Linked DNA regions of Homo sapiens. The protein of the gene in region 3 interacts with the protein of the main gene of each other region in a biochemical or structural test. Each region holds a gene or a part of one and is shown on either strand. Other genes may lie near its edges.

The links.
Region 1: the proteins of ADRB2 (region 3) and NHERF1 form a complex in vitro, tested with the Homo sapiens proteins (3 studies listed by BioGRID and IntAct, with this or other methods).
Region 2: the proteins of ADRB2 (region 3) and MAGI3 form a complex in vitro, tested with the Homo sapiens proteins (2 studies listed by IntAct, with this or other methods).
Region 4: the proteins of ADRB2 (region 3) and GRK2 form a complex in vitro, tested with the Homo sapiens proteins (2 studies listed by BioGRID, with this or other methods).

The regions. Positions count from the first base shown.
Region 1 is NC_000017.11:74,744,037-74,751,651, reverse strand, and holds the start of NHERF1 (Na(+)/H(+) exchange regulatory cofactor NHE-RF1), read right to left. Parts: upstream 3,025-7,615; 5' UTR 2,806-3,024; coding exon 2,365-2,805; exon of another isoform or gene 1,785-2,364; intron 1-1,784. Other genes in the region: RAB37 (ras-related protein Rab-37), read right to left, coding at 6,241-6,346, 6,568-6,644, 6,723-6,779, 7,279-7,344. UniProt on the Homo sapiens protein: Scaffold protein that connects plasma membrane proteins with members of the ezrin/moesin/radixin family and thereby helps to link them to the actin cytoskeleton and to regulate their surface expression. Necessary for recycling of internalized ADRB2.
Region 2 is NC_000001.11:113,393,513-113,400,536, reverse strand, and holds part of MAGI3 (membrane-associated guanylate kinase, WW and PDZ domain-containing protein 3), read right to left. Parts: intron 1-7,024.
Region 3 is NC_000005.10:148,822,639-148,829,126, reverse strand, and holds ADRB2 (beta-2 adrenergic receptor), read right to left. Parts: upstream 2,517-6,488; 5' UTR 2,296-2,516; coding exon 1,054-2,295; 3' UTR 504-1,053; downstream 1-503. UniProt on the Homo sapiens protein: Beta-adrenergic receptors mediate the catecholamine-induced activation of adenylate cyclase through the action of G proteins. The beta-2-adrenergic receptor binds epinephrine with an approximately 30-fold greater affinity than it does norepinephrine.
Region 4 is NC_000011.10:67,276,463-67,283,486, reverse strand, and holds part of GRK2 (beta-adrenergic receptor kinase 1), read right to left. Parts: intron 6,216-7,024; coding exon 6,139-6,215; intron 4,288-6,138; coding exon 4,214-4,287; intron 4,070-4,213; coding exon 3,968-4,069; intron 3,862-3,967; coding exon 3,787-3,861; intron 3,649-3,786; coding exon 3,587-3,648; intron 2,756-3,586; coding exon 2,704-2,755; intron 2,395-2,703; coding exon 2,303-2,394; intron 2,029-2,302; coding exon 1,929-2,028; intron 1,838-1,928; coding exon 1,759-1,837; intron 1,666-1,758; coding exon 1,535-1,665; intron 1,217-1,534; coding exon 1,122-1,216; intron 1,053-1,121; coding exon 945-1,052; intron 736-944; coding exon 669-735; intron 360-668; coding exon 259-359; intron 1-258. UniProt on the Homo sapiens protein: Specifically phosphorylates the agonist-occupied form of the beta-adrenergic and closely related receptors, probably inducing a desensitization of them. Key regulator of LPAR1 signaling.

The DNA.
Region 1 (7,615 bases), on a different chromosome or scaffold from region 3:
ACAAAGCAAAGCCGGTGGGCAGAGCTGGAGAGCCACTTCCACCTCCTTAGGCCTAGACTCCCCAGCGGGGATGGCCAGTGTTACAGGCACCCCTCAGCCTCTGCCCTGAGTGGTTCTGGACACAGCTGGTCTTCCCAGCCAGAGGCCACCCAGCCAACCACTCTCTGCGCCACACTTTTCCACTGATATCATCACTTAGTAAGTGGAGGGCTAATGAAGACAAGGGAACAGCCCCACCTTGCACACAAATTCAGACTAAAACGAATTGGCAAACCTCCATTTGATGCTTTATGTAGGAAACGGGTGTGTTTTAGAAAAACGAACTCTTACAATGTCTGTTAACATTTTTTCTAATAACCACATGGGTGTCTGTATGCTCAACACACAGGATTGAGAGGAGAGGATTTTCTGCTAGAAGGACTCAATGGTGTTGACTAGGAGTCAGTTTAGAGGAGCTGGGATTCAAACGCCAGGCATGAAGGAGTGCAGTTCAGCATTTAGTAAGGGGCTCAAGTGCTTCACGTCATTTCTATAATTCTAGAGAAGGCAGGCATCACATCGCCCAATGCCTCCATCTCACAGATGGGAGAACCAGAACTCAGAAGTCCTGGGACTTGGCTGGTGATGGTGTCCCCAGGATTTGCTGGTGGCTCTCCTCTCATCTCCTGGCCTAACAAAGTACACACAAATGTAGGTGTCCCTCCAAAACATGCAGGAATCTGAGTCTGTGCTCACCCAGGAAGCTCAAAGCTGCTGCCTTTGCGCACGTGTGCTATGCCAGGCCTCCACGTTCGCCTCCCAGGCCCTCTGGCACCCAGCAGCATAACCAAAAGGGCAAAGGGAGGAGCTGAACGAGACTGCAACTTGTGGGGGGTGGGGGTGGGTGGGTATTTGTGTGGGTGCCAAAGTCCAAAAAAAAAAAAAAAAAAGAATGTCAAATCGATCGATGGACTCAGCACAAAGTTCACACTGGATTTCTGCCTGGGACTGGAGATCATCGGCCCCAACTCCCTGGCATCAACCTCCTTGCTCCGGGTGCTCAGATCCCTTCCCCCTCCCCTTGCCAATGCCAGCTTGGCAGGGGCAGGAAGTGGGAGCCTGGTGGCCCTGGCATTCCCAGCACCCAGCTCTGGCTGGACAGGGCTTCTGGTGACCTCACTTCCACCAAACCAGTTGATCCTCTAGGGCTTTGCCTTCTACCTTAATGCCGAACTGTGCCCTTTCTCTGTCCAGGAGGCTCCTCGTAGCCCCACGGACACTCCCATCAGACACTGCCACCAGGGAGAGCTGGTGGTGCAAGCTGAAGGGGTCCTGGGAGGCTCACGCCCTGCCCTACACAATGCACCACTCCACTCTCTGGGGACAGGAGGCTCAGCACAACTCCTATTTTGCCAGCTGCCCCTCTTGCAGCTGATCCAAACTGGGATCCCATGGGCAAACACCAAACATGGGCAAAAAGCAACCGGCCTGCTGGCTGTGTGGGCACCAGAGTGACCATGGCAAGGCCAGGGCAAGACCACCGGCTCACCGTGAGCTCCGCTGGCGCACACAGGGCCGTGAGCCCCAGGAGCTCTCTCTCCTCCCCATGGCCATCTTTTTCTTCTTCCAAGGTCTTTCCCCTTCCCTCCCAGATACAGTTCTAGGCGCTTACTCTTCACATTCCTGAGAATCGTAAATCCTCTGAGGTGGCAGAACCACCACTCCGAGATGCCTTGGCTCCTCCTCCCTGCCAGGCAACCCCCACACCGCCCTGAGATGGTGGGGCTTCCTCTCCCTTAGAAGTCACACAGGACTCCGGGAGGATGAAGTCCAGCAGGACTGAAGTTCAGGACACACACCGGCGGGCTGCGGAGAGGGCCTCCTCGCGCCGGGGCTCCACACAGGAGGAGTAATGCTATTCCTCTAGCTTTTGAAGTAGGAGTGGCGGGCGAAGCTGGCACCTCTGGGGCGGAGAGCCCTTTCTCCCCGGCCCATCTGCGGACTGGGGTGAACGAGGAGAGGGCACCAGGGAAGGAGCAGGATTGGGGGATTCCGAGGAACGGGAGCAGACACCCACAGACCCGAGGGAAGGGGGCTGGGTTCCCCTGCGCCGCCCTCCCAAAGGCCAGGGAACAAGAGGTGCAGGCGGCAAAGGCGCTCAAGCTCCCAGCACAGCCTGGGAAGGAGAGGAGGTCGCGGGACGCAGCCCCAGGCCTGCCTAGGATGTGTCAGGGCGCCTGGTCGGCGGGCGGAAGCGGTCTCCCCCTCGCAGCTCGAGTTTCAGAAAAACGACGGCGGGCGCGGGGCTGGACGGCCGGGGCACCTGGGTCTCTCCGGATCCTCCTCCCACTCCATGCCAGCCTGCGCGGCTTGGGCCCCGCTTACCTGCTCCGGGTGGCTCTTGTCGGCCTCGCGAGGCTCATTTTCGTTGCCAGCCCCCTGCACCTCGGCGGCGGCCGGCGGCTCGGCCTGCCCCGGCGCTTCCTGGGCGCGCAGCAGCTCCTCTCGGACCTGGACGCCGAGCTTCTGCAGCTGCTCGTCCGTCTCGGGGTCGACCACCAGCAGGCGCACGGCGTTGAGTGCGGCGCGGATGCGGCTCACCACCTGCTGGTGGGTCTCCTTCTCCACGTTTTCGCCGTTCACCTCCACCAGCCGGTCCCCCGCCAGCAGCCCCGCCTTCTCGGCCGGCGAGCCGGGCTCCACCAGCCGGATGTACTGGCCCAACTTGCCCTTCTCCCCGTGCAGGTGGAAGCCGTAGCCGTTCGGACCCTTCTCCAGGCAGCAGAGCCGGGGCAGGGGCGCCCCGGCCGCTGCGTCCGCGCTCATCTCGCCCTGCGACGGGTCAGCGGCGCGACTTGGGGTTCCGATGGGGACGGGACGGGACGGCCCAGCCCTTCTTCCCGTCCAGCGAACCGGGAGCGCAGCAGAGAAGCCCTGAGCCGCCGGACGGGCCAAGCAAGCAGGTGTCCCAGGAACCGTCGGCCGCCGCGAGCCGCGAGGAGCCGAGAGAGGACCACAGACCAATCCCCGCCCCGCGCGGCGTCTGAGCGTCCCAGAGTCCGCCCCGGCTCCTTACCCCGGGGGCGGGGCCGCGCTGAGGGTGGGGACCTCCGCGGGCCAATAGGGGGCTGCAGGCCTGGGCGCTCCGGCCGGGTGAACGGCGCCGGCCATTGGGAACGCGCGGGGCGGGGCCTGCGCTCGGCGCGGCGCCCCGCGGCGGGCGAAGACTAGCGCTCAGGAAGTGGAAGTGTTTGTTACCGAGCGGCCGGCGCTGGGGTGGCAGGGGCGGGGCTCGCCGAATTCCCGGTTCTGGGCGGGTGGGCCCGCCGGCTCCGGCCTGGTTTCCCCTACCTGTGGCGGGGAGTGAGGAAAGCCGGCCCTCGGGTAAAGGACCCTAACTTTTTTTTTTTTTTTTGAGACGGAGTCTCGCTCTGTCGCCCAGGCTGGACTGCCGTGGCGCGATCTCGGATCACTGCAACCTCCGCCTCCCGGGTTCAAGCGATTCCCCTGCCTCAGCCTCCCGAGCAGCTGGGGTTACAGGCGCGCACCACCACGCCCCGCTAATTTTTGTATTTTTAGTAGAGACGAAATTTCGCCATGTTGGCCAGGATGGTTTCAAACTCCTGACCTCAGGTGATCCGCCCTGGGATTACAGACGTGAGCCACCGCACCTGGCCAACGTTTTAACAGCCTTTAGCCAAAGCCTGGGTGCAGCTCCAGTTGAGAGGGAGCGGCTGTTGCCGGGGCAACTGCTCCCGCTCGGGGCAGCGAGGGCCGGTCAGTCTCGAGAATTAAGACGGAGGGCCTCCTCGGACCCTACAGAGTTGTTTGAATAACATTTTTCCGTTTGTGGGAACCCTAACCCTAATCCACTTTGTGCTGTCCCAGGACTCGCATAGAGGAGTGCAGGTTCTGATCCCTGCTGGGAAGGTGAGGGCTCCGCGGAGAGCCTGGGACCTCGAGGGGCAGCCCGCTGAAGACAGGCCATCTAGGGCAATAGCGTGGGCTTTGGCAGCAGCGTTTGGCTAGGGAGGTGGGGTGGGGAGAGGCAGGACAGACTCAGGTAATCAACCTCTGGGTACACGCCACAGGGAAAGGAGCCTTGGTTTTTTTTTTTTTTTTCCAACAGAAAAATGATTAGGACTGTAAAGCCTTCTAGCTCCCTCTTGCCAAAGAGAGGCTGGTCACAGAGGCGGGAGACAGTCTGTTGAGCGGGGAGCTGACCATCTGAGGACAGACACTGAGGAAGGAGGATGGAATGATTTTGGCAGTGAATGACAATTCCTTCAACAAGACCCCCCCCCCCCACTCACTTCAAAGAAACAGTGGACAGGATGTGCTTTCCAAAATACTGCAGTTTAATTCTGAAAAACTCAAATGCAAGAGGCCCAGAGCTGTCTATGGGATTGGATCTCCTGCAACCTGCCTTGGGCCCCAGAAGAGACTGGCAATGTCAGCCTCCTCCCTGCTCTGCCTGAGGGAGGCCACGGAGAACTTCCTTATCGGGCCCAAACTGGAGCCGCTGACTGCTCAGAGCAAGATTTCTGCCTTGAAAGCAAATGCAGTAGCCTCAGAAATGTGCAGCGCATACTTCTTCCTCCCCCTCTCCCCCTCCAGGCCGGCAGAGCTGCAGTAAAGATGCCTGCAGGTCATGACCTCATGTTTCCTGTCCACTTCCCATGGCAGGGATCGGAGCTTTGGGAGATATGTGACCAAGGAGGACACATGAACTTGCTACCCCTCTCTCTACCCCAGACATACCCACATGACTTTGTTTTACTCATATTGCATTGGTTTAACTCGGAAATGGGTGACCTCCCACCACCTAACCTGACTCAGTAGGAGGGGAGGTAAAGCAGTTTAGGCCCTGGTATCTGTTTGAGAAGTTAAAGGAAAGGGCATGGGTGGTCAGGGAGGAGGCAGAGCTTGGGGTCAAAGGGATACATGTCAGGGGAGGTTTGCTTAATCTTGTCTCCCACCAGCTCCAGGAGCCAGGGATTTCTCTTTTTTTTCACAACACATTCCAAACCTAGGAAAGGGATTTCTCCTTATCTGGCTCTTAACCCAGGAGGGCTAAACACTTCAGCTGCTTGAAGAAATCGCCTGTGGAGCTGCATGCCTGCCAAAGGATTGGGATAAGACACATCTAGCCTGGGCATGGTGCCTTCTGCGTGTAATCCCAGTACTTTGGGAGGCCGAGGCCGGCAGGTTGCTTGAGCTCAGGAATTCAAGACCAGCCTGGGCAACATGGCGAAACCCTGTGTCTACAAAAAATACAAAAATTAGCCAGGTGTGATGGTACACACCTATAGTCCCAGCTACTTCGGCGGCTGAGGTGGGAGGATCGCTTGAGCCCCAGGGAGTGGAGGTTGTAGTGAGCGGAGATTGCACTACTGCACCTCAGCCTGGGCGACAGAACGAGACTCCATTTCAAAAAAATAAAAACAAAACTCTTTTCCTAGTTCTGACCTGAGGTTTTTAGGTGCACAGGCAGGAAGGTAGCTAAGCCAGGGATTCAGGGGGGGGAGGGGCTCCCCCAGGATCTGAAGTCCAGAGAACAGGAGCCTGGAACCAATATTTCCAGGTGCCCCAATGTGCTTGTGTGCTGGAGAAAAGGGGCATGCCTCCAGGGGGGTGTTAGTAAGGCCAGAGATAGCCAGCTAGACCCTACTCTCTGCCCCTTGTCCTCCCCCTCCCATCTCCATATCTCTTATCTTCCCTGAGGCTTTGGTCTTCCTCACAGCACAAGGGCCCACTTATTTGGGAGATGGGGCGAAGATAAGCTCCTGGAGAGCGGGAGACAGTGAAGGCTGGGGTCACCTGAGCCTCTGTCCAGCTGAACTGAGGGTGCGATGGAGTCATTACCTGCCCTCACCCCCAAAGTGCATCTGTGTCCCCTGGGGCTGAGCTGGAGCAACACCACCTTTGTTATGCTTAGGAGGGAGGGCCGGCCCCCCAAGTCCTAGAAAGCAAAAGGGCCACTAGCTCCCAGCCTCGGTTTTTTGGGGATCCAGGCGCCTTTTTTGGTATTAAATTATGTACTATTAAAATAAAAGCTAAGTGTTTTACCCTCCCTGTGGATGCGGGGAGACCGCAGGAACTCAAGTAGGAGTTGGAGTATAGCTCCCTGCTAGGAAGCGGCTGTGCAGTGAGTCCTCCATCTTTCTCCCCATTGGCTCAGCCTCTTGGAATAAGCCAGGCCTGGGAGGGGGAAGGCTGCATCCTGTGTGCCTCCAGAGCCTCCTCTCTGCCCCCTGGGATTCACATGAAGGAGCAGCAGCTGGAGCGCTTCTTCTGGGACTCTACATAGTCTCGGATCTGGAAGCTGGGCTCATCCGCCTGATGCCCGGCCCGGTATTTCAGTTCCCTTGAAGAAGAGACAATGGGCTGGGCTGGGCTGGGCTGGGCTGGGGTGAGGAGCTGAGCCGCCCCCTCCCCTCTCCCAGTGGCCCAGTGCTCCCAGAGCAAATGGACCTCAGCCTGCAGAATGCAGGTGTGTCCAGGGGCTGGGCCAGGGGCCGGGCCCTACTGGATTCCTGGAGTGTGCCGCCCTGCCCCGCACACTTCCCTTCCCTGCCCAGCTCTCACTTGGCGATGGCCAGAAAGGCTAACTCCACATTCATGCCAGTCTTGGCGCTGGTCTCCAGGAAGGGAACACCGTACTCCTGCCCGGGAGAGAGTGTCCTCAGGGCCAGCGTCGGGTTGCCCCCACCCTTCACCCTGTCCCACAGACAATCACTTACCCTGGCCAAGGTCTCTCCGTCTTCGGAACGGATCACTCTTTCGCTGCTCATATCCGCCTGTCAAGCCCAAATGGGTCACTCTGGGGAAGGAGGCCTCCGCCCCAGCGGGCCCATATTTTGCCCCAGAAGCAGGCGTTGCCTGCCCTCTGCTGGTGGCCCAAGGGACTGCAGGCAGGTGTGATTGGCCTGGGGCCAGGGTTTCTGCCCAGTGTAGCTCCCAGCTCTGGGATCTCACCTTTGGTAAAGGGTCTTGGAATAGGACAGCAGTTGGGGCTAACCCTTTGCACTCTTAGCCCCTGACCTGGGACCCTGTTCACTCTGCTCTAATGGGGGCTGAGAACTGGGCACCCCTTGATTTCTCAGGCAACAACTTGGACTTTCCCTGGAAGGGGCAGATGGGATGGGCAGAAGCCTCCAGATATGTCTGACCCCTGAGCTGGAGGCTGCAGAGTCCTTTTCAGGAAGGATGCCTAGATAACTGTTCTTGGGTGGTTATGGGGCCGGCTAGGGCTGAGGAAGTGCAGGGCTGGGCTGACCCTGCCCCGGAGCCACTCACCTTGTTGCCTAGCAGCATGATCACCACGTCCCTCTGGGCATACTCATGAATCTCAGTGAGCCAGGCCTGTGGGAGAGGGCGTGCGAGACTGGCATTCTCTTCCTCCTGCTGCCCCTTTCTTCTTCTGCTCCGTTTGACTATCCTCAGTTACTCACTACCTTGAACACGATACCCTGTGCGTTCTCTCATCTGTACCTTTGTTCTGGCCCATCCAGGCCTGGATGGCCTTCCTTGGTGGCTCAACCCACAATGGCCCCACCCTCACCATTTTATGCTGTGCAACTATCAGTTCTATGGAAGATCCAGATGCATGGAGACCTTATCTCACAAATCAGTT
Region 2 (7,024 bases), on a different chromosome or scaffold from region 3:
ATCCGAAGGGTGCCCAAACTAATCTAACAATACAAAGTACTTGCTATGATGATTCTTACTGGCAAATCACACCCAATTCCATGAATGTTCATTTTTATGTACAGTAAGTGCATTCACCAATAATCTACCAACATTTAATATTCACTAAAGATCCAACTACCAGATGACACTTGGCAAAACTACAAAACTCCTACTGTGCATGGCATATATAAACTCAAAGTTATTACTAAAATTATTATTTTTATGGCACCAAAGCTGAAGACATTGATACAGTAATAGAATATAAAAATAGTATGAAATGTTATTTGGAGCACCCACCCCTCTCTTTCAACTGTCTACCCCTGCTCTGAGTACCTCTGTTCTCCCAGTGGAGGCTATAAAAAACTTTAAAAAGGGGATCAGATTTTATCCTGCAATATCTGCCAAATAACATTTTTGGTAATTAAACAGTTACCACATGACACCATACTTAAGTAATGTTTCAAAACTCTTATATACCCATTTTATATAAGAGTCAGTGAAGTAGTTCCTTTCACATAATTTCCACGAAATCATGGTTAAAAAGTATTATTAGGGAGCCCTCAGAAATACTACAATAATGACATTGTCTCAATTTGTGTTTAAAAAGACCATTGTTTTAAAAGCAAAACACCTTGGAAAGTAATTCGTTTAGAATTTCATTTTCAAAATGGTAGAATAAAATTGTTTTAAAAACGTAATTGTTTAACTAGGCTAATAATATTTTTCTCAATGCCAAAGACTGTTAATCTTCCAAAGTATTCCATCTCCCTAAAAATCAACAGCATTGATTTTAGAGAATCTTATTTAATTTTTTTAAAGAAAATTAAATAAAAATTACAAGAAATACTTTTAAATTGTGCACATTAAGGTATCAGTATTTCAATTTTTTAAAGAAATAACTTTTAAATAAAAGCAATTTTTTATTTAAATATTTGAGTAAAAGCAGTGCCTAGAAATCAAATCAGTTTTGGTTTACAGCCAATATCTGTTTTTCTAAAAATGATAGTTTTATGACAACTGTGTACTACTTCTGGCCTCCAAGTAAGAGAGATTAAATGTTTTAAAAGAGATCATTTCCTGTAGTATTGATTCCTCGGCATCCCACCCTTTCAGGAACTCCCCCTCCCTTACGTCTTGGGGTTCTGCTACAGTTATTAATCATATTATGCTATTTATACCCAGCTGCAAGGGTAGACATGTCCCCACGCCTGACCAATCATGGCACTTCATTGTCCTCTCCTCTCTCTACAATAATTGGTCCAAGAGATGGGCACAGGGCCAAAGTCCCTGCATGAGATTTGTTATTAGACTCCAAAAAGATGAGAAGCTTTAAGGACCCTGTATGACTTCGGGGTTCAGAGCTACCTTCACCGCTACACTGACAGTCTAGCTGAGAAAAAATCCAACCCAGAAGAAAAGAGAACCAAATAATAATTCTAATGACCAACACTTGAGAACAGAAGTTAGCTGTTACTGATCTATGCCTGGATTTTAATGTATGTAAGTCAATAAATTTCTTCTTAGCCTACATTAATCTCAACAGCGTTTCTGTCACTTGCTACAGAATTCTTACAAATACAGAAACTGATATGTAAATTAAGATTTTTTTCTTTCCTGCTGAGATCTAAGCTATATATCACAAGATACTTGCTGCAAACTAGATAACCATATCCAAAGAGTAATATATCTCTGGAACTACTCCATTAAAGTGAATTTTTAAAAGTTATTTTATTGGAGGAAAAAGCAAAGCCAATTTAGCTTAATTCTATTTAAGTTCAGAAAATGAAGCATTAATAAATACTTGTTTTTTTCCTACCTTGTAGGATATTTTCCTTTCATAAAACTACTTCTGTTAAATGCCATTATGTATAGTAAAATCCCATTTTTCATAGTCATGTGTAATTCCCAATCAGAACAACGAGATACAGGCTTGCCTCTCACAAACTCCCCTGAAGCCAGAAAATAATAATTACGTGTTTCAAATTATGTGCAAAAAAACCAGCAAAAGCAAAGAGGCTAAAATGCCAGAAAGTTTTAATTAAGTAGATCGGTTACCGTTCACATTGTATACCCAAGACAATAAAAAGGGAAGCCTCCAAATAGAAAAGATCTTAATTATTAATAAATTTGAAACAAAATTTTTTCCAATTACCACTGCATGATATTTTTTAAAACCAAACCCTAAACTCCAAACAAATTATGGCAAAAAAGTTTAACCCTTCATAACCCATACAGAGTCTCTAAAACAATATCTCTCAGTATGTGTTAATAAAACAAGTACCTAATCACCTATAAGGACAGCGTGTCCTTTCTCAGGTATTTAGATATGTCATAAGTCAAATTATGGTCCTCAAAATGTAATCTATGTTCCCCTGGCCATGTTGGGATGACTGAAATGGGTGGGGGCTGCAGGTAAGTGGGTTGCTCCTGGAAACCACTGCAATGCAGCTGAGTGGCTGCATCAGGATAAATTGCTAGGGTTCAGGGAAGAATGGAGATATAATGATGCCACCCTTCTCACTGGAAGCCAGTCGGCTGTGGCTGTAACAAAAGGGAAGGCGGGATTAAGATGAAAATATATTTTTCAATTCCCTTTTTCCTAGGCTAGCAAATTGTGTTTTCCCATAAAACTGGCTAGACTTCCAAAACAACAAAAATAGGGCTATTAACCATAAAGAACAGAACTAATGGTACATTAAGGGTTAAATAAAAATATTCATAGTATAACATTATGAGTGGAATGAGGCTGAAGGCAGAAATAGCATTAAGCACCTTAGAGCATTATTTCGAGGAGATAACACATTTAAAAAAAACTTACAGGAGACTATTCATAATGGAACTACCTATACATTTAAACAATTAATATGATCTTCCCTCTATTTTCCAATTATTCTATAATGTGGATTTTGTGCCCTTGTACAAAATAATTTCCAATTATTCTATAATGTGGATTTTGTGCCCTTGTACACAAACACACACAAAATTATTGAGATGGACCACACTGTAAACCTTTCTGTATGGAACGTTTTTGCCCTGTGTTTTTCTCCTCCTCTGCTTCTTACCTACTACTGGAAAGATCCTAATTCCACTCAACCAAAATCTGTCATCTTTCAAAACCCAAACAAGTTCAAAATTATTCACAATTCATTCCTCAACCACTCAAGTCAGAAAACAAGGGCAGATGGCGTGGATCCTACCAAGATATTAAAAAGAAAAAAAGAAAAGAAATCATTCTTTCACTTCATGTACACATTTAATTTCCATAAATTCACTGTACATACCTAGATGAGGATAATTTCTTAGAATTAAAAGTTTTTTTGTAAAACATATCTTTTTAATGCAAGCAAATTACTTCTTCTGGTATTCGACCAAAAAACTGCAATTGGTTCCAACATGGGTGGAAAAGTGGCATTTGGACTCATCCTACAAACAGTACAATATAGTATTTTATGCACAATTTAAGGGCTTTTTGAAAAGACAGTTTTGCTTATATTTGATTTCCCTCTTTTTGTGATGACTTGAGAACCCAAATCCTTTCTAAAATGCAGCTCCACTACTTTTTCGAATAGCACACTATGCAGCCAGTTAGTCTCATTTTCACCAAAATTCATACTAAGACCTACCTAAAGAGTTTTAAACACTGGCAGAAAAGTGAAAAAGGCAAAACCCTTACTACAGGTATTCCTTACCAATGAGTCATTAAGCTCCCACTAAACTGCCAGCTTCTTGAAGACACACAATTTCTGACTCATGTTTATATCGCCAGTGCTAGCTCCATGCTGGCACTTGGTGGGTGCACCACTAAGTATTTGCTGAGGGAATGAATGCGTGCCAGTAATAGGACTTCTTATTTTTTCTGTATTAAATAAAATATGCATCTTTTCTTGGAAAACATTCTGAATAATAGTTGTTCTTCAAAAACAAAATATTAGCAAGATATTTTGTTAGCAAAATTAGCTAGAAGAGCAATGAATGGATTTGCCTCTTTCCCTACAAACATGTCTCATAACACCAGCTTCTAAGTTTCTGAAACTCTTACTTTAGACAATAGTTTTAAATTCAGGGCATTCACTCTATCTACCAAAATGTAGTATTTCAAGAAAATTATTGCTCAAAATTTCAGAAGACAAAAAATAATTTATTAAAGGCGAAACGGTTCTAGTCTTCAATACCAAAACACTTATCTTTTGTCAAATCACACACACACACACACACACACACACACACAACCCTGACATTCACAGATTTTGAAATTGGTAAATAATACTGAAGTAATCCATAAAAACAAGATTCTCTTTCAACATACTCCCAAAACACTAAGTCCCCCCAAAAATTACAAAGCACTTAGGGGTTACATAGTAAAGACTCTGTATGAAACTATCACTTGAGAAGATTAGGCACTGACTTCATAAGTCAGACACTTGAATGAATTTAGAAGATTTGTTTTGTCGCCAGTTTACATAAATTAGCAGAAAAAAAATCACAAAAATTTGTCTCTCAAAACAAAAGGTTTTATAAAGTATGTGCCAGGATCTCAGAGGAAAAATAATGTATACGTCCCAGGAACACAGAGTTATGTTACATGAAAATCAGTTTTAGCAATAAACTGAATAAAATTTAAAATCATCTAAAAATCAAATGGCCAAATGTTAAGTATTTGTTTGTACCAGTAAGATAGCAAGAAATTAAAGAATTATTAAAATGCCTCAACCTAGGAAAATAAAGTTTTACAAACTAAATTATAAAAGTCTGGGGGTGAGGGCAGGATCAATAAAGTACCCAAAATGATATACTAGAAAATGATATACAAGAAAAGTTAACAAAAGTATGTGTGTGTGTATATACATATACATATATGCATATAATATATATATACACACACGTATATACATATATACATACTGAGATATTTGGATATAGTACTCTTAGAGAATGATGGAGAGAAAATATTTTTTAAGTACAAAGATGTTAATGATATAATAAAAGTCATCAAATATCATGCAAGCAAATCAGCTTGCAATTGCTAAGGTGTAAGCCCATTACTCATATGAATTGAAGGTGTCAATGAACAGAATCCAAAACCTGAACCCCTGAGTTATTAAGAGCTTTAGGGAAAAAAGAAAAAAAAACTACCAAAATTTGAAATAGGAAATTTTCAACTTCAAGGTTTATCAAAATGTAATGCTACTTTCCCTAGCAAAGGGGCTTGGCTTGCTTCTTTTTCTATTGTTTCTAAAATAATCTCTAGGTCTCTAGATTTTCTTGTTTTAAAAAAGGTACGAAGAAATGTATTGTAAGCCTGGGAGGCTAACAATTAACTCTAAATTCTCTTACCTTTCCCATCCTCATATAATACAACCACCTAAACAAAACTCATCAAAAATCCTAAATATCCCACTAAAAAAAAAAAAAAAAAAAAAAAAAAAAACTAACAAAAAGATTCAAGAGATAAGAAAGGCACAGCATTATTTTTATTTGAATAACATAAATATTTCCTATTTTAAAGCATCCAGTAGTGTTTCTTCACCAACAGGAAGTGTATTTCTAGGAATTAGCCCATTTTAACAAAACTCCCTTACAAATTGGATGTCCCAAAGAGTCAGCAGTGAAGACTTTTACCTACCTTTAACATTACCCAGGAACTGTTTCAACTTGGTTTTTATTTAAACAAACTATAACATTGTTTCCTATGATTTCCATCCCTGGATACACTACTTGCTTAGGGTAGTTGAATGTAATGTGTGCATATGGCAGTAGACAATGATTTCATGTATTTATTGTACCGATACTTAATCTCTGGAATAAAATACACATAATTTACTGAAACTTACTGAAAGCAAACTGCTGAAATATGAGCTTAAAGGTGTATGAAGAAGCATAAAACTCTGCACAATTAGAGTCTGGGGAATTTCAGAACAAAATTCACTACTTGTATATTAATCAGAATAGAAATGGTTTAAGAATATATACTCTGTAGTAAAATCAAAGAAACTAAACCTAGTCATAGTAGTATATCACAAAACAATTTCACCAGAGGTCCAAAGTTCAACTTTACTACTGGGAAAAGACAAAGTTCAAACTCAAATGACAACTTTTCTCTTTGCAGAAAAATAAACAACAGGGTCATAATTAAGAAACAAGTAACTAATCGAGCCAAGCAATAGGTGAAACCAAAGATTCTTCTATAAGCGGGCAAAGTACTGACTACTAAGTACTACACTAAAACAATAAGAAACTACCTAATTGATTCAGGAAAAGCTTCAGATTAGAAACCATATTTTAAAGAGTAACTTTCAATTCTCTATTAAAGATTATAACAACAAAAAAAGGGAAAAAAAATCAAAGCTAAAGACAGTAGCTGCCAGAAAGATGTTAAGTCACCTGGCTGATAGTACTGGCTTTGGGAGGGCGACCCTTAGCACCTAAGTGAAAAGAAGGCTAGGAAGAATCAGTGCTACAAAAGCCATGTTCTACAACCCAGCTCATCCTTCTGCCATGGACTTTGTCAGAAGACAATATGAGAACATTTCCGATTAGTATTACATCTTACAAAAATGGTTAAATTTTACTCTTTCACTGTGCTAGTCTCTAAATGTCATGTTATGAATATGGTTTAATAAAAAGCAACTAGTCAAGACAAGAGAGTGCTAAGTACACTTTACAATACCTTATTAAATTGAAAAATCAATTTCTGTCACAAAGTTTAGATAAAAGCAAAAAATAAAACAATGTTTATGGCAAGTTTCTTTTTAAATTCCCTTACTCTATTTTCATCCTTTCCAAAATGAATCACAATAAAGAATCTTTGTCTCTTCTGAAAATAATATTTGTTTTTAATCAAACTCAAAAGTTCTACAGATAACCTCTTCAAATTCTTAATTTCTAGTATTTAAAGTCTGTTTAACCTGCAAAAATCTTGCTATTTTATAACAAATGTTGCTTTTAAGCAAAGCCATTTAAGAAAGCCATTTAATATAATACCTAACATGAGGCTATTAAGAAG
Region 3 (6,488 bases):
AATTTTCCCTCAGAATTACGGGGCCATGTCTGAGTAGCTTCCTCATAAGAACATCTTCCTTATCCCTAAAATGCCAAGCCCTGATGCAGTACAAAGAGCTCCACTGTAACACATGGCCAAGACAGAAATATAAACAGTTTTGAAACAAGTAGAACTGGAAGGTGGGTGGTGGGTGCACGTGGAGAGAAAAAAACATATCCCCTTAACTCCGCTTCTGTGAGTCAGTGTTTCTGAGGTAACAACACAGAACAATAACCATAGGGAGAGTTGAGCTATACTAAGAGCAGGCAGAACTGATTTGGGGCACAAGTGTCAGGAGAGATGCAGCTTTGCAGCAGCAGACTCAAAGGCAAATGAAAGGGTTAAGCAATCTGTGCATGTCATTCTTGTATCATTCTACATTAAGTCATGGGCAGTAATTACAAGTAGTTACCTGCGGTTTCCAGTGGGGGAGGCAACAGCACTCCAGTCAAGGGGTTTTGGAGAAACAGGTGCAATGAAGGCATGGTCAAACAATTTATTTACTGTAAACTTTAGACTTTGCTCGGGAAAACAACTGAAGCTGCTCCTCAAATCCCTGCCTAAAATACCCCGTGTGAGCAAATAAGAGGAGTGGGGGAAGAGTCCATGTTCACAGCTGAAAGGTCCGAGATACTCAAAATCCTCAAGTCCAAGGGTGTAGGAAGGAAAATCTCCTTCAGATACAAATTACCAGCAGCAATATATTACCCCTAATACTTGAATAGTGAGGTAGATACATGGAAAAGTCATGAAAATATAGCAGACTCAGGTCCTCTAGGACTAAAGCTCTTTAGACATAAACTTACAAATTCCATGCAAAGAGGAACTGAACTGTACAAATAACAAATAATCACTCAAATAAGTTTTCTCTCTTTTTACAGCTTAAAAAAATAAAAAAGGCAGAAGGATGCCCTTCCTTCTGCATATCTCTATACAATTTTACAATTTTATTCTAAGTTTATTACCCTCAAGTTAAATAGTCTGTTTAGTGTTCTGTTGGGGGGGGGGGTCTTTAAAAGTAGAAAAACTGCTTTACAGCAGTGAGTCATTTGTACTACAATTCCTCCCTTGTGAATCAATGTTATCGCTAGGCACAGTACCTTGATGGCCCACAAAGTCTTCCGTGCCTGGGAGGTCTTCACACAGCAGTTTATTTTCTTTCTCCTGTTCCACGTGATATCCACTCTGCTCCCCTGTGTTGCCGTTGCTGGAGTAGCCATTCCCATAGGCCTTCAAAGAAGACCTGCGCAGGCACAGAAGCTCCTGGAAGGCAATCCTGAAATCTGGGCTCCGGCAGTAGATAAGGGGATTGAAACCAGAATTGACATAGCCTATCCAATTTAGGAGGATGTAAACTTCCTTACGGATGAGGTTATCCTGGATCACATGCACAATGTTAACGATGAAGAAGGGCAGCCAGCAGAGGGTGAAAGTGCCCATGATGATGCCTAACGTCTTGAGGGCTTTGTGCTCCTTCAAGCAGAACTTGGAAGATCTGCGGAGTCCATGCCCCGTCCGCCCATCCTGCTCCACCTGGCTAAGGTTCTGGACATGGAAGCGGCCCTCAGATTTGTCAATCTTCTGGAGCTGCCTTTTGGCCTCCTGAAAGACCCTGGAGTAGACGAAGACCATGATCACCAGGGGAACGTAGAAGGACACGATGGAAGAGGCAATGGCATAGGCTTGGTTCGTGAAGAAGTCACAGCAGGTCTCATTGGCATAGCAGTTGATGGCTTCCTGGTGGGTGGCCCGGTACCAGTGCATCTGAATGGGCAAGAAGGAGGTAAGGCCTGACACAATCCACACCATCAGAATGATCACCCGGGCCTTATTCTTGGTCAGCAGGCTCTGGTACTTGAAAGGTGAAGTAATGGCAAAGTAGCGATCCACTGCGATCACGCACAGGGTCTCAATGCTGGCCGTGACGCACAGCACATCAATGGAAGTCCAAAACTCGCACCAGAAGTTGCCAAAAGTCCACATTTTCATAAGAATATGGGCGGCCCCAAAGGGCACCACTGCCAGGCCCATGACCAGATCAGCACAGGCCAGTGAAGTGATGAAGTAGTTGGTGACCGTCTGCAGACGCTCGAACTTGGCAATGGCTGTGATGACCAGCACATTGCCAAACACGATGGCCAGGACGATGAGAGACATGACGATGCCCATGCCCACCACCCACACCTCGTCCCTTTCCTGCGTGACGTCGTGGTCCGGCGCATGGCTTCCATTGGGTGCCAGCAAGAAGGCGCTGCCGTTCCCGGGTTGCCCCATGGCGCGCAGTCTGGCAGGTGAGCGCACTGGCTGGGGGCGCCTCAGCGGGCGGACCCACGGCGGGGCTCTGCGGGCCGCGAGCGGACGCCTGGAAGCCTCATTCAGCGGCTGTGGTGTGGGTGTGGTGGGGACTCGTCCTGCACACTCAGCTTGTCGGGTGCTAGGGGCTCGCGGTGCCTGCCAGTTCCAGCCCGTGCTCTGAAGAAGCCGCTTCGCAGTGCGTTCTGCCCGTTATGTGCACAGGACTTTAGGGGAACTGCCCTCGCCGTGACGTACGGGAACTTTCGGCCAATGGCACGCCGGCAGCCGCGAAGGGGCGAGGCACTCCTCCCCTTTCCCTCCCCTCCCCTCGCCCTCCTTCTCCTGGGGCTGGCCCGGGCGGGGCCCAACTGCTCCCTGGAGGGCGGGCCACCACTGCTTCCCGGCTACCCTGGCTGGCCCCAGAGGGCTAAAGCTGGAGGTGGTGTCCTTACCAGCCAACCCGGGAGCTTTTGGCTCTTCTGTGGCCGCTACCTGCCTGCCCTGGGCGCCTGCGCGGCTTGAGGTCTCAAGGCAGAGGGCAGCACACCGGCACTGCCCCACATTCGGAAGGAAACGAGAGTGCCCACCGAGGCACGCACATACAGGCACAAATACACCCTGGCAGACATGCTCAGACTTATACCGAACCACAGCCATAGACACTGAGACACACCCTCCCAGCTCACCGACATGCACACTCGCGCGCGCTCTCACACAGAAGCCATCCGGCACAAAGTCACCCCTGTCCAACACAGAAACGCGGCCAGAAACAAACACAGAAGCACCCAGAAGCACAAAGACATGGTGACACACACAGAAAGTAAACACACGCTGGCTTGGAGGCATCCAGAGCGACACAGACACGGATGTCTCCATCTGGGTACTCCGAACTTGCCTCACCCGAGCACTGATAATGCTCCCCTCCCAACATACACCCGGTAACCCAGTGTATTCCCTTTCAAACATTTGGCAAGAGCACAGGAGGTGACTTCAACAGCTGCTGATTTCCTCAGCACACTCGCTGTCAAGTACTTTAGGTGCCCTCCTTAGGAATTTGCAGGCATGAAGACAGTTTTACCCTTTGGATTTTATCTGGAGCGGGGGTATGCAAGTATGTATTTTGGGACAGAGAGAGAAAGTTGTGTGCTTTTGTTTTAATTTTTTTGTTGTTTTGTTTTTAACTCTTGAGAGTGTGGCATCACTCACTCATTATCTGTTGAACTGGAGATGCAATGAGAATTCAAACAATTTCTTCAGTAAACCCAATGAAACTAAAAAAAATCCTTTCATCTGCTGGATAGTTTGTTAATCTTTCGGGTTGTGCCATGTGAAATTGCCACCATCTGGCGTCTGTGACTTACCAAAATGGCAAATTCATATGGTTCAGAGTATTAAGAATGTCTTAACATTAAGAACATTTTGAAGCTATAGAAAGCAAAAGATCCTGGCCAATATGGTGTAACTCTTGTCTCTACTAAAAATACAAAAATTAGCCAGGTGTGGTGGCACGTACCTGTAGTCCCAGCTACTCGGGAGGCTGAGACAGGAGAATCTCTTGAACCCGGGAGGTGAAGGTTGCAGTGAGCCGAGATCACGTCACTGCGCTCCAGCCTGGGTGACAGAACAAGACTCCATCTCAAAACAAAACAAAACAAAAAACACAAGATAATTCTCCCTTAAGAAAAAGAAAAAAGTAAGACCAAATCTCAAAAGTAAGATCTTTGTTCATGAAATACTATCCTTTCCATCTGGCATGTGACTTTACTGCTAAAGTGAAATTAATTTTCAGGGTTTGATTTCCCATGTATTAGTGGTGTCTTTGAAAAACTGAAAGTATTTCATGAAGTGTAACTAAACGTACTTTGTAGATTACATAATAACATAACAATGGTTAACATTTATGGACCATTCTGCTATTTGCTTTTCATGCATTATTCTATTTAATCCTTCCCACAGTCCCATGGGGGTGGGGACTATTTTTAGCTTAATTCACAAATGAGGTTCAAAGAGGAAAATGGCTTGCCCAGGGGCAATGGCTGGGCAGTGCCAGAATCTGGATTTGACCCAGGTCTGCCTGAGTCCAAGACCCATCTTTTAATCTTTTCAATGTATTGCATAATTACATGCAGACAGGAGTGATGGATAGGGAGGAAGGGCTACAACTGGAACTGGAATACCCAGGTTCCAGATTCACCAAACTTGGAGCTTTCTAGTTCATTTTTTTTTTTTTTAAGAGAAATCACGAAGTACCTGATTTCCATTGTCTCTAAAGGGGCATAAAGTCACTTCCATTGGGGTAAGCAAGAATTGAATGATATAGTAAGAAATATGAAAATGCTTTTGCTCATATAAGTGTCACACAAGTGTAGTTTGTAAGCGAAGTTTACATAAATTACTTAGTGGTTTAGAATATGTTGTTAGTCTTCTCTACTAGAACAATAAAATACTTTAGGGCAAAAGTAAGTTGGGTGTTTACTCTGGAAGCAAAGCTCAGAAACAGAATTTAACCTACATATCCCCTTTAACATCCTTCATAGCAGAAACTGACTTTTTGCAAGACAGATGCCTTAGAAAACAAGTATTTCCCATAAAATCCACAAATATGAATTAAAGATCTATTATATTCACATAGTTTTCAAAATACACTCACCTCATATTTGTGTTTTCCAAAATTGGCTGTGGCATGATGCATTTTAGGAAGAGGCAGTATTTATTATGCAACAACGTTTCTTTAAATATGCATCTACTCAAATTGTGGAACTAAACCATTTAAAACCTCCTTCCTGTTTGTGAAGCTATGGCATAAATAAGCATATTGTTTAACCTTCCTATAATAAGAAAAGAACAAAGAAAACCCCTTTAAGACAAATATTAACTGATCATGTATTTAGATATACACGTAAGTCACTTAAAAGTTTAACTGAATATTTTGGGAAACTCCTTTTTTAAAACCCACAAATACTAAATCAAGAAGGACTGGCTAGCCATATGCAGAAAACTGAAACTGGACCCCTTCCTTACACCTTATACAAGAATTAACTCAAGATGAATTAAAGACTTAAACGTAAGACCTAAAACCATAAAAACCCTAGAAGAAAATCTAGGCAATAACATCCAGGACATAGGCATGGGCAAAGACTTCATGACTAAAACATCAAAAGCAATGGCAACAAAAGCCAAAATTGACAAATGGGATCTAATTAAACTAAAGAGTTTCTGCACAGCAAAATAAACTATCATCAGGGTGAACAGGCAACCTACAGAAAGGGGGAAAAATTTTGCAATCTATCCATCTGACAAAGGGCTAATATCCAGAATCTACAAAGAACTTAAACAAATTTACAAGAAAAAACAAACAGCCCCATGAAAAAGTGGGCAAAGGATATGAACAGACACTTCTCAAAAGAAGACATTAATGCAGCCAACAAACATATGAAGAAAAGATCATCAGCACTGGTTATTAGTGAAATGCAAATCAAAACCACAATGAAATACCATCTCACACCAGATACAATGGCGATCATTAACACATCAGGAAACAGACCGGGCGCAGTGGCTCATGCCTGTAATCCTAGCACTTTGGGAGGCTGAGGTGGGTGGATCACCTGAGGTCAGGACTTCGAGAGCAGCCTGACCAACATGGTGAAACTTCGTCTCTAATAAAAATACAAAAATTAGCCAGAAGTTGTGGCATGCCTGTAGTCTGACCTACTCTGGGGGCTGAAACAGGAGAATCGCTTGAACCTGGGAGGTGGAGGTTGCAGTGAGCCGAGATTGTGCCACTGCACTCCATCCGGGGTGACACAGTGAGACTCCGTCTCAAAAAAAAAACAGGAAGTCAGGAAACAACAGATGCTGGAAAGGATGTGGAGAAATAGGAACACTTTTACACTGTTGGTAGGAATGTAAATTAGTTCAAACATTGTGGAAGACAGTGTGGCAATCCCTCAAGGATCTAGAACAAGAAATACCATTTGACCCAGCAATCCCATTACCTGGTATATACCCTAAGGATTATAAATCATTCTACTATAAAGACACATGGACATGTATGTTTATTGCAGCACTGTTCACAATAGCAAAGACTTGGAACCAACCCAAATGCCCATCAAGAATAGACTTGATAAAGAAAATGTGGCACATATACACCATGGAATACTGTGCAGCCATAA
Region 4 (7,024 bases), on a different chromosome or scaffold from region 3:
TGATAAACATAAAAAGCTGCTATCATCATCATCTGTGACAAGGGCCCCTCTGGAAGCCAGTTACTAGCTGGTTCCAGCAGCTCCAACTCCCAGGGCAGCCCCTCCACTCTGAGAACATTGGACAGGGCTGGCCATGCCCCAACTTATGAGCTCCTCCAAGGAGGCTGGGACCTTGGAGGGGGTTCCAGGTGACGGGACACAGCCCTTGTCCTCATGGGGGCACAGCCAGCAGCATGCCCAAGGCGCCAGGGTACTCACCCTCGGCCCAGGCAGCCCAATCTCCGGTTGACATCCCTCTGCAGCAACCCCTCCAGCAGGGAGCGTAGTTCAGGGGAGAAGGAGTCGGGCAGCTCCACGGCCTTTAGAGAGGAGTGGGACATTAGCAGGGGCTTAGGAAGAGCCCTTGACCCCATCCCAGCTCAGGGGAGAGAGGGGTCCAGGCCCCCGCAGAGGGACAGATGGGGCACAGCATCCTAGCTCGCCCAGCAGTCATGCTCCAACAGCACGGGGAGGGCGAGAGCCTATGGGGCAGGAGGTCTGTCTCAGAGGCCAGAGTAGGGGTCAGTGGCCCAGATCTCTGCTGGCTGGTGGGAAGCAAGAGTCATGGCCTGGCACCCACAGGAGCTCCCCCCAGCCCCCTGCGGCCCTGCACTGAGACCTGCACCCACCATCGTCAGCGTCATGCGGTCGATCTCATGCTTGTCTTTGGTCTTGTGCTGCCGGAAGGGGCTGTGCCTGGGCAAGAAAGGCCAAAAACCAATGTCAAAGGACAGGAATGGGGAAAGGGAGGCAGGCAGCATGGATGAGCTGTGGCCAAAGTCAGGGACGGTGCCAACCCTACCACCAAGGCAGCTATGGGCTCCCCTCCTTTGGCATCCCACCTGGATTGGGGAGGAACTTCTCTTAGCCCCAACCCACCTGCCCACCTGGGATGGGCCACTCACCCCCGCAGCAACTTGAAGAGCATGCACCCCAGAGAGAACCAGTCGGCACTGCTGTCGTAGGCCACGCCCTTCTGCAGGACCTCCGGAGCCATGTACCCGTGGGTGCCCCTGTGGGAGCAAGGGGGCCATAAGCGGGAGTGGCAAGGGGTGGGGAGGGAGAGGGTGGGGGGCACTCACACGCTGGCATGGGGCTTCTTCTTGGAGAAGTCACAGGCCAGGCCCAGGTCCGAGATCCGCACGTGGCCATGCTCGTCCAGAAGGATGTTGGCTGGCTGTGAAGGAAGCCCAGTGAGCTGCCTGGGGCAGCTCAGGATGGGGCCCAGCCAGGCAAGATGCCAGCTGGGTCACTGCTTCACTGGAGAGGACGATGGGTACCCAAAGAAAGGGCAAAGGTGGGGGTCCTCTCTCCTGTCCCCAGCTACAACCTGGACCCAGAGAGTGGCTCGGTGGGAAGGGCAGGGGCGGAGATGGGAAGATACGGGGCGGCCATGTCCCAGGAGCCCCACTCCTCTGGGCCTGGTGGCCGGGATGTCGAGAGGAAGGAGAGGACAGCCACGGAGGTCCAGCCTGGGGACAGCAGGGGCGCTCACCTTCAGGTCCCGGTAGACCACGAAGCGGTTGTGCATGTGCTCCAGGCCCAGGATGATCTCGGCCGCATAGAAGCGCATGTCAGCCTCTGAGAAGACCCCGTGCTGGGAGAGGTGGTAGTGCAGGTCCCCACCTGAGGGAGGCAGTCCCACAGGCAGCACTCAGTGTCTTGCCCCAGCCTCCCGTGCCTGGGCCCGGCCCACCCTAGGGCCCGGCCAGCACTCACCGTTCATGAGGTCCAGGATGAAGCTGAGCTTGTCTGGCGTGTGGAACGCGTATGACATGCAGACAATGAATGGGCAGTCCTAGGAGGGGAGAGGAGGGGAGGGGGCGGGCAGTTAGCAGGGGCGCCCGGGGTTCCAGAGCCTCAGCGGCAGCCCGGCCCACCCAGCTCACCCCAGTGCTGACGAGCGAGAGCATGATGCGCTCGTTCAGGGCCAGGGTCTCCCCCTGCTTCATCTTGATGCGCTTTTTGTCCAGGCACTTCATGGCGTACCTACGGGGCAGAGGTCGGCAGTCAACACCCACCCTCAGAGCAGGGGCCCAGGGCTGCCTCAGGGGGCGCTTGAGGGAAAGACTAGACCCAGGACCAGCGTGTGACACAAATCAGAGACAGGGAGGGCTGGGGCCAGAGGAGCCTGCGGGGGTAACAGCACGGCAAGACAGGAGTGCATGGAGCAGCAGGTGGCCCTGTGTGGAACCCGGCCTGTCAGGGTCCCCCAGGAGCCCGGCTCCCCGAGGTATCCCACCGCGCCGAGCAGGGTGCTCACATCTTGCCTGTGTCAGCCTTCCGGCACCCATAGACCTCGCCAAAGCCCCCGCGCCCAATGATGCGATGCACGCTGAAGTCATTCATGGTCAGCTGAGGGGCAGCGACAGCTGCGGTCACCACAGGCTGCCTCTGCCCAGCCCTGGGGCAGAGGCACCTGGGCAGCAGGGGCTGGCCCCATGCCAGGGTCCCCATACCCATGTCCTGGCCATCCTTGCCACATATTTACCTGCTCCGGCCTCCCCATGCTGGGATCCCGGCCCTGACCCCCATAGCCACGGCCCTGGGGGCTAAAGGACAGACATCCCCTGACCTCCCCCTCCCAGCCAAGCCACAGGCCCAGCTCCCGGGAGAGGAGCAGCAGGGTGCGTGGCTTTCCATGCCCCACCCAAGCCCACTCACGTGGATGTTGAGCTCCACATTCTTCCACTGGCAAAACCGTGTGAACTTATCGCTGGAAAAGAAGAATCAGGGCTCAGGGGCCACTCAGAATGTGGGAAGGATGATGCTGTCGTGAGCCTCCCCACCCAGCCGCCACTCCCTGGGGTCCCGTGAGGGTAGGTGTGGAAACATCACGAGCGTTAATGTCCTCTTCCAGGAAGGATATGTTGAGGGCCTGCCCGCCCACAGCACCAGTCAGGGCTGCTTGGGTGCCCAGCATGGCCCTCGGCCACCTGGCCGTGGCTTCCTGCTGGAATCAGATCCGCACAGAAAGGAGGTCTTCCAGTCTAACCCAGACTTCCTGCTACCATATCCTTGACAAGTACGTCTCCTGTCCCTGCTTGCATACCCCCAGTGACACAGAGCTCACTCCATGGCTGGGCAGCAGTGACCCTAAAACAGCTGCTCCCTAAAGCTGGCTGAAATCTACCTACAATTCCCACCCACCGCGCCAACTCTGGCTGTGAGGGTCACGGGGGCCATGCGCTCTACTGGGCCTACCCCTACCAGGACTCTGATGCTTCTCAGTCCAGGTGGGCCAGCAAGGTGCTATACAGCCCACGGGAGAGAAAGAGGCACAGGTGGCACAGCTCTCCTAGCTCCCTGGAGCTAGGAGACTGCCTGGGATGGGCTTTGAGCTGCCTGGTGCTGAGGAGGGCAGGGTGGGAGATGACCTGCAGCCTGTCTGACTTCTCAGGAGTCCTTGCAAGGGGGCCGCTGACGGGCCAGCCACCTGCCTGCTCAGGGCCTAATGAAGGCTGGCTTCTGCCCTCCACGCCAGCCATACCCCTTCTGAGAGCGGCCCCTCCCTCCCCCTTCCTCTCCCACACTTCCCTGCTCTCACCTCTCAATGAATTTCTGGAACACGTCCCCTCGGAGGTTTTGACAAATCTCTTCGATGTATGGCTAAGGGAGGAAGCTGGAAGTTGGTGACTGAGCCCCGAGAGACCGTGGTTGCCCAGGCCCCACCCCTGGCTGACCAGGCTTGTTGACCAGGGGCTGTCCAAGGTGACCTTGCCTGGGGAGGGACCGGGAGGCACACACCTGGAAGAGATCCGGAGGCACCTGCTTCTTCCCCAGGTGGCCTTGGACATGCTCAGTGGCACTCTTCGAGAAGGGCTGGGGAAGACAGAGGTGGCCATGAATTCTCAGCAGGGTCCTCTCTTCCCCTCCCAATCTGCAGGTGACTCTGGGCCAGCACACAGGGCCAGCTGAGGACACTCACATGCGAGCAGGCCAGCAGCTCCTTCATGATGTATGAGTCGAAGATCTCCCGGCTGCGGGCCACACGCTCCTCCTCCGTCTCCAGCTTCTCGTACTTCTTGATCTGGAGGACAGGATTCCTGCAGGTCATCTAGAGCCCAGCAGGGAATGGGGATGCCCACACCAGGCAGCTTGTGGGTTCCACAAAGCCGCCCCAACCTCCTCCCCTTTCTCCAGGCAGAGCAGGGCTTGGGCCTCTGGGTCTCACCTCCTCATAGAATTCCACCAAGGGCCTGGCCTCCTCCAGGTGGTTCAGGCAGAAGTCTCGGAAGAGCAGGTACCCTGAAGGCAACAGTGTAAGGTCACAGAGCCACGCCTCTCTCAGAGGCCTTCCCATCATTGTGGATGGTGTGGGTTGGGCTCCCTGGGCAGAACTGGCTATGGAGGTGGCAAAGGTGGTCTCGGCCCCAGGCAAGGGGTGGGCCAGGCAGCTGCTAAGGCTGCTGCCAACGTGAAGATTCCTGGATTCTGGGTTGGGGCCCCTGTGTTTCTACCCTCTTCCTGAAATCTGTTTCCCCAGGTGGTAGCTGGACGGCGATGGGCACCAGGGTGAGGCAGAGGAGCGGGGTTGGCTCTGGCATCAGGGAGCCCTGGCTTAGCACCTGGGCCCCCACTCACTGCAGCCCAGGGCCCTGCGCCTGCTCTGTGAGGCCGATACCCCCCACCGGGGCGGGCTGTGCAGGTGCAACACGATTCAGTCTGGGGGCCCTGGGATGCTGTGGCCACCGGGGCCAGGTCAGGCTGCAGCATGGGGAAAAGGTTAGCAGGGGGCTCTGAGGCCACACCACTCCTCTGGACCCTGCCCCACTCCAGTGTCTGGCTGATTTGCACAGCAGCCTGAGAAACAGGCAGGGAGGGTGGGTCCAGTTGGGGAAACTAGGGCTCAGGGAGCTGGTCAGACACACTGTCTGTGGCAGAGGCTCAAGTGGAACTCAGGGCTACTCCACCAAATGGCAGGTCCCTGGGAAAGAGGTTGGGGCTGGGGCCTCAGGGCAGGGGGCATGGAACGGGTGTAAGCCACAGGGAACTGGAGAGGCAAGGTGGGCTGTGGGAGGGGCTCTCAGGGGACCCCAGATAGGGTGTCCTCATGCCTGAGTAAGGGGCCTGGACCCTGGACCCCGGCCCCCGAGCACTACCAGGGGACAGAGGCCCTCCTCAGGCCTCCAGTCTGACACGGGTAACCAGGCTCGAGCTGGGTGGCCTCTCATGCCTTCGGGGGCACTGCCTGGGCACCTGGGTCAGAGCTGCGGCCATCATTTCAGTCCTCACTGCCTGGCCTTTAGTGCAGGGCCTTTGAGGAATGGGGGCCAGGCTTCACAGTGGGCACAGTGCTCCCATCTGACTCTGACAGGCCTGCACAGTCGGACTCATGAGTCCCATCTCCCAGATGAGGACACCATCAGGCTCAGAGAGGTGAAGCAACTTGCCCAAGGACAAAAGGCACAGGCCTGGGACCCAAACTTTGTGCTTCTTGACACACCGACTCCCCCAGGCTGACCCCCAATGCCTGATCCCATCAGGCCAGGATACCCCCTGTCCAGAGCTGAGCTCCTGTTCTCGGGAAGGCCAAATCAGAGCCATGTGGGGCTGGAGCCTGCTTCCCGAGACCTGCCCCAAGCCTGCCCTCCGGGCCAGGTCCGCAGGGTGGGTCACATGAAACTTCTGACAGCAGGCATCAGACACCAGCTGGAGGAGGAATGGAGGGCCAACACCAGGCAGGTTGCTTACAAAGAGGGCCCATGGGGTGGGGCGGGGCCAACCACAGCTCGGCAGGCGCCACAGGAAGGGCCCCGCCTCTTCCTGTCAGTTCTACCAACGGCCCAGAGCAGCTGCGGCCGCGCCAAGGGGAAGCTGCAACTCTCAAAAACAAAAACCCCAAAGGAGGAACTTCCCTGGCGGCCCTGGAAGACTCTGGGCCCCCACCCCCACCACGGGGCTCCCTGGGCCGACAGCCAGGGGCAAGGAGGCACGCAGGGTCGCAGCGACTTGGAGCAAGCCCTGGGGTCTCGCTGGCTGCTCCACCCTGAGTGGATGGGAGGCCAAATCTCTGGAGAGTGGGGAGCACAGCTGGGCTGGCTGGGGTAGGGGCAAGAAGTTAAGTCCGGTGGCTGGCAGAGCCACTGCCATACTCACCCAGCTTCTGGGAAAAGATCTTCTCAAAGGTCACCTCGCCCCGGTCCTCCAGGTACTTCTGCATGACACTGCGGATGCTGTGGGTCAGGGGGGCGCAGTAAGCAGAAGCCCCCAGAGCCCGTGGGGGCTGCAGGCCCAGAAACGCGAGCTGAGGGCACTGTGGTGGTGTCGCCACTCCCTCCAGGAAGGAGGCCAGCCCGTCAGGCCTACTCACTTATCCCAGCCACAGGTCAGACCAGAAGGCTTCAAGGAAGCCTTTGCCTGCACCGCCCCCGCCAGGCTGTGTCCTCAAAGGCCAGGGTGGCCGGCAGGTGGCCCCCTGCTCAGAGGCCCACCGCCTGTGGGGTCTCGTCCCAGTGATGCCACCGGCTGGCTTTGGGAACTTGGCCAAGTCACAAAAGCCAAGCCTGGTTTGTGAGCGGATGAAAAGACACACATGTGGCATCTCCACGCAGCAGCACATGGCTCGGCTGTAAAAAGGAACAAGGCACCAACAGGGGCCACAACGTGGATGAGCCTTGAAAACATGAGGCTGAACGAAGCCAGTCACAAAGGGTTGCCACATATTGTGAGATTCCACTCATATGAACAGATCCACGGACACAGAACGCAGATCCGTGGCTGCCGGGGGCTGGAGAGAGGGAGAGGAGTGACTGCGGTGGGGACGGGGTTTCTTTTTGGGGTAAGGGTTGCACAACACGGTCAATGTACTAAAAAACACTACATTGTATAATAAAATGATGAATTTTATATGAATTGCATCTCAATTTTTTAAATTGTAAGAAAAGGCCATGCCTTGGTTCGTGTGTCCCTAGTACTTGGATATAAAATGTGACCCCTGCCCTGGGTTGCTTGGTATGGCCATAGGGGAGGGCCTGGCCATTGT